2 separate regions of the Homo sapiens genome follow, and region 2 is linked to region 1. Evidence: fine-mapped expression QTL. A gene starts in region 1. The other region holds a variant in brackets. All regions are shown on one strand. Distances are from middle to middle.

Evidence for each region. PIP is the estimated chance that this variant, and not a neighbour inherited with it, causes the effect.
Region 2: its variant is the best candidate, but not a certain one, in a credible set for the expression of GALNT17 in sigmoid colon (GTEx, PIP 0.62).

Annotation. Positions count from the first base shown.
Region 1 is chr7:71,130,664-71,133,568 of GRCh38, reverse strand. GALNT17 (polypeptide N-acetylgalactosaminyltransferase 17) reads right to left here and starts at 1,425. Exons shown (of 11, transcript NM_022479.3): 1 at 529-1,425. The coding sequence starts at 766.
Region 2 is chr7:71,269,627-71,272,531 of GRCh38, reverse strand. All of the region lies in intron 1 of GALNT17 (polypeptide N-acetylgalactosaminyltransferase 17), which reads right to left. Among named protein-coding and RNA genes, the nearest start is that of MIR3914-2, 37 kb to the left of the region's middle. The variant T/C (reference allele first, on the strand shown) is at 1,250.

The sequences.
Region 1 (2,905 bases):
GAGCAGCTCGCCTCATAGACAGATGACATATTCCTCCCATATACTACCTAAGCGCATTAGCTCCGCGACCTGGGGCCTTGACTTTGTCTGCAGACATCCAAGCCCTCCAATCTCCCAGGTTCCCTACTGGTACCCCACCAAACGCTGGGCTCTAAGACTATTTCCTCCTACACGTCTGCCCGCGCGCCTCCAGTCCCATGTGGCCCCTCCACTAGTTTCTGCGCTCGGGCTGGAGTCGCCAGGGAATGATTTCCAGTCCGCACGCGGGGACCGGGAGCCAACTGTACTGACATGTTTCCAGGATAAAACCAAATTTGCAGGTGGGGCACAGAAAAGAATCAGGCAAGTTGTTCTTTCCAGCAGCCCCGGCCATCTGCCCGAAACGGGGCAGGAAGGGTAAGAAGGAGCGCGCGGGAGCCAGGGTGTGCCGGCTCCCAGGCACAGGGCGCAGCGCGCAAGGACCCTGGGGCTCACCCTGTGCCCGGCCCGCCCGCGTCGAGCCCCGGAGGCGCCGGCGTGCGTCCTTACCATTCAGCTGCCGGTACACGATGTCCTCCAGCAGCGACAGGCGCTTCAGGACCGCATCCTGGATGGGGCTGGCGCTGTGCGCGCTGAGGTTGGCCACCTCGGCGCGCGGCCGGATCTCGTGGAAGGCGTCTCCGCTGCGCACCGCGATGGGCCGGCACTTGGCCAGGAAGAGCACGAAGCCGGCTACCGCGATCAAGTTCAACACCAACAGCACTTTGACTCTTCTCAGTGAAGCCATCAAACAGCCCGGCCGGCCCTCGCCCCGGACCTGCGCCCCCTCGGGCTCCGGCGAGGCGCGGGGCAGCCAGGGGCCGTGCAAGCCTCACACACCAGACGGCCGGCAGGGATCCAAGCCCCTGCTCGTCCCACCTCAAGGATGCTCGGGCGGCGGAGACGGCTGGGAGGTCGGATTGGTGGTGGGGAGAACGGAATCGCTCACATGGAAGTCCTCGCTCTGCAGAAGTGCTCCCCGAGACGCCTGCTCAGTCCACGGCGCACGGCCCCGTCCAGGCGTCTCCGCGAAAGGCCAGGGATTTGAGGGTTTCTCTTCTGCACCAGCAAGTGGTTCGCCTCTGGACCTCTAGCCGCCGGCGCCGCGGACTCCGAGGCCGGCAGGCGGGGCTGCCCGGGAGGCACAGAGGGAGCGGCGCACAGGTGCCGGACTCAGGGATCGCCGCCCGCCCACGGCGGAGCGCGCCGCGCCTGGGGCCGCACAGCCTCCCACCTTGGCCCGCAGGCGGCCGTCGCGGCGCGCCACCCGCGCTCTTCAGCGGAAGACCCGCTCCCCCGGGCAGGCGCCTTTGTTCCGCTCACCGACCCGCTCCATCGCGCCGGGCAGAGGGGAAGCCCGCTCGGGGAGCCCGCATCCTCCAGGCTCCGCAGTCACGCTCAAGTCTCAATTACTCTCAAAGTGGGGGCAGCACTAGGGGGCGGGCGCCGGGCCGAGCGCTACGTCCTCTCCGCCCCCCGCGCGGAGTCCACCCCACCCCGCCGGCAAACTCACCAGCGCTCACAGCGCCGCCGGCTCCCGGACACGTTCCAAGCCCCCAAACCGCGCCGAGAGCCTTCGGGGCCTTCAGGGCACACCGGCCTGTCTCGGAGCTGGCGCGTCGCGAGGCTGGCCGGAAGGAGTCGGACCTCAAAAGTCACAGCAGTTCTCTACCCCCTCCCAAAACGTCGCGGGCAGCGCGGCGGGGAGGTACGCGTGCCGAATCACCCTCCGCTCGCCAGATCCGGCCGCGCGGCTCGTCCCGCGCCCCCGGGAGCCAAAACGCCGAGTCTCCCAATTGGCGGACGCGGTGACACCGCCGCTGCGGCACCGAGAGCCACACAGCCCCGGAGCTGAGGAGCCCGGAGGGGACGCGCAGGTGGCGGCGGAGGGCGGGGCGCGGCCCGAGGGGAGCGGCGGCGGCGCCAGCTCCTCCTCCGCCGCTCTTCGCCACCCTGTCCCCGAGAGGCTGTCGGCGGCCGCCGCCGCCGCCCGCAGGCTGCCGAGCGCACAGCTCCCCGGTTCGCCGACTCGTGCGCGCGCGCACCCGGGCAGGGCGGGGGCTTCTGGAGAGTGGGGACCGCGCGGGATGGAGGCAGTCAAGGCATGCTGGCTGCGGCCGGCGCTGGAGGGACCCTTTAGTTCTCAGTACTCCCTGAGCGGGCGGGTTCGTTCCATCCCGGTTGGCGATGAAGACATCCTTTTCTGTGTGCTCGCGGCTCCGCGCTGCGTGGCCAGGAATGGCTAGAGGGAAAATCTGGCCTGGAGGCTCGGATTCTGAGACCTTCGGAGCCAGGCCGGGCGTGAGCGGGCTTGGGGGGGTTCTCTGCGTGCAAGAATTCTAACCTCCCCAGTCACTGCTTCTAGGCCCACCCGCTGCTCTGTTCAAATTTTATTATAAGAAGCATATTCATTTGGCTCCTGGTTTTCCACTACCTCTTCCTCTTCCCAAAACCCAGGAACTCGAAATACTGGAATTCAACGCCCCCCCACCCCGGTTGATCCATTTAATTCCTTGGGTCTAAAATAGAAATCAGGCCGCCAACTAATAAAAATCGGGCAGCAAAGCTAAATGGAGCTGATCGTTTTCCCCTCATCATTTTGATCTCATTAAAGTTTTTGTTTTTGTTTTTGCGGTTGTTTTGGTTTTTTCTGGGGCTTGGTTTCTTGTTTTGTTTTTGCCTGTGTATTATTTTAAGTTTTGATTTTTAACATAGAAATGTATATGCAAAAAAATAGTCTTTTTATTTCATTCCCTTGGAATTCTCTGCCTGGGTGCAATCGGGTCCTCAGGGCGCATGCTTTGTAAAATCTACCTGAAAGTGGACACAAAACAGTTAAAAAGGCCCAAGGGATGATTTTTAGCCACACATGTTAGGCAAGAGAGAG
Region 2 (2,905 bases), 140 kb before region 1:
ACACCTACTAGAATGGCTTAAAAAAATACCTGACAATACCAAGTGTCACCAAGGATGTGGAGCAACCTGAACTCTGCCTGATACATAGCTGTGAGAATGCAAAATAGTAGAGCCACTTTGGAAAACAGGCTGGCGTTTTTTTACAAAGTGAAACATACGCTCACCACATGATACCTGGGAATCCCATTCCTACGTATCTACCCAAGGTAAATGAAAACATATGTTCACATGACTGTATATGAATGTTTAATAGAAGATTTATTCATGATTCCCCCAAACTGGAAACAACCCAAATGTCCATCCATACTTCGGAAATTACTTAACAGTAAAAAAGAAAGAAACTCCCAATACATGGAATAGCATGTATCAAAATCATTCAAGTGAAAGAAGCCAGGCCCCAAAGGTTACATACTGCATGATTCCATTTCCAATGTATGACAGTCTAGAGAAGCAAAACCATAGAAATAGGGGACAACTGGCCACAGTGGCTCATGCCTGTAATCCCAACACTTTGGGAGGCCGAGGCAGGAGGACTGCTTGAGCCCAAGAGTTTGAGATCAGCCTGGCCAACATAGGGAGACCCCATCTCTACAAAAATTAAAAGATTAGCTGGGCATGGTGGCACCCATCTGTGGTCCTAGTTACTCGGGAGGCTGAGGCGGGAGGATCGCTTTAGCCTGGGAGGTCGACGCTGCAGTGAACTGTGATCGTGCCACTGCACTCCAGCCTGGGAGGCAGAGTGAGACCCTGTCCCCACCACTAAATAAAAAAGACAGGAAGAATTAGAGAACAGATCAGTGATTGCTAAGGATGAGTTGGAGACTGACCACAAAATGGGATTATTCTGCATCTTAACTGTGGTGGTAAATCCACAGCTACATATCCATTGCCAACACTCATCAAACTGTACACCCAAAAAGGGTGAATGTTATCGCCTGTAAATTATCCTTTAATAAATCTTAAATAAAAAACCTGAATGAGTGCCAGAGATTTTTTACTTCATTTCCGTGAGCTCAGATTCTTTCAAAAACTGCTCCTAGGCACGTTAGCCAAGGCTGTTTCCTGGACATGAGGTTATCTCAGAACAAACCGGGATGGATGAACAGGCCCAGGGAGCCACGTGGCCACTGGTCAGTGCCACCCCTTTGGGAGCTCTTCTACATCTCTGAGCATCATCACCCTGATGTGGAAAGCAAGGAAAATGCTAGACTGTGCCCCGTGCACCCTAAAGCATGATCATTTCTTGCAC[T/C]GGAAGGCGCGTGACAGGAATCTGGAGTTGGGGTGTATGGATATGGCCCTAACTATGGGCTATTGTAAAGAAAATATGCAGCACCCAAAAGCAGGAAGTATTGAAAGCAAATGAACTGGCACCAGATCGTGATTCTCAGCTGCTCTAACACATTTGGAATGAGCAAGTCTTTAAATGCTTTTGTCAGCTTGCTTTAGGAATGAAATTTGGTATTATTAACACTATCCCGTATGAAACAATTATATAAGTGTAAATGGAAGATGTGTTTAAAGGGTCATGATGAAATTCCTAGAAAACGCTTTCCCAGTCTTTTTTTTTCTTTTCTTTTCTTCTTTTTTTTTTCTCTGATTAAATAAGGTCAGATAAGATGAGGACAAAACTAAGTCAGCAGGCAGAATTTAAATTACTTAAATTACTTTTCTTTCTTTTTTATTTTTTTTTCCTGCAGCTGAACTTCAGACTGTGGGAGGGAAATGAACAGCTTAAACCAAAGCTAAGCTCTTCTGTTCTGTATCAAATGGCAATTACTCTTCAACTATTTTTTTTCATCCGTCCACTCAGCAAACATCCACCACCTCAAACAAATTTGCTGAAAGAGGCAGAAGAGGGTAAGGGTTTGGAATGCATTTTATAAAAGGAGAATTGCTGAAGCCAAGTGATGCATACATTAAGTCCATTATATTATTCTCTTTACCTTATATATGTTTAGAAAATTCGTTTCTTTTTTTTTTTTTTTTTTTTTTTGGTGGGGTGGGGAGGGTACGTAGTCTCGCACTGTCGCCCAGGCTGGGGCAAAATGGTGCAATCTCGGCTCACTGCAACCTTTGCCTCCCGGGTTCAAATGATTCTCCTGCCTCAGCCTCCAGAGTAGCTAGGATTACAAGCGCCCACCACCACGCCCAGCTAATTTTTGTTATTTTTTTAGTAGAGACGGGGTTTCATCATGTTGGCCAGGCTGGTCTCAATCTCCTGACCTCGTGATCTGCATTCTATAATAAAAAATTGAGAGATAGAGGAGATACAAGGGGGGAGAGTGAGATACCCCAGGGACTAGAAGGTCTGAGTGCAGATCACAGTTCCTCCACATGTGCTGTGCACCCTTCAACACGTTTCTCAATCTCTCTGTGCTTTAGTTGCTTCTCTGTAAAACGGGGCTAAAAATAGTAACTACTCATAAGGTTGCTGGGGGTGAGTAAATGAGTTTAAAGCACATTTATTAAATGTGTAGGGCAGCAGGGAGGTAGGTTTATAAATGAATACTATGTGCTAGACAGAGAGAGAGGTGTCACACACACTCATGAAAATATTTCCTAAAGCCTGTAAATCAGTACAAAGCGTTTCAGAGAGTGTATTAATCTCTCTTCCTGAGTCTATCCCCTGCTTTGTGCTCTTGTTAGGTTTTACAACAAATTTATCTGTGGGGGACAAAGGCAAGGGCTCCATCCGTCTTCCATCACCTCCCCCAGCCATGCTATCACAGCTCTCCCTTCTCAGCCAGATGACAATCCCTTAGCCCTCCACTCACTTTCAGTTATAAGAGGAAAATAAGTTAGGAAACTACAACTCAATTTTAGGATTTACAAAGTGTGGCACAGCCTCCTGTGAACACTTCCATTCATGTCCAGTTCTCGGCTTCCTGCCCCTCCCCAGTCTAGG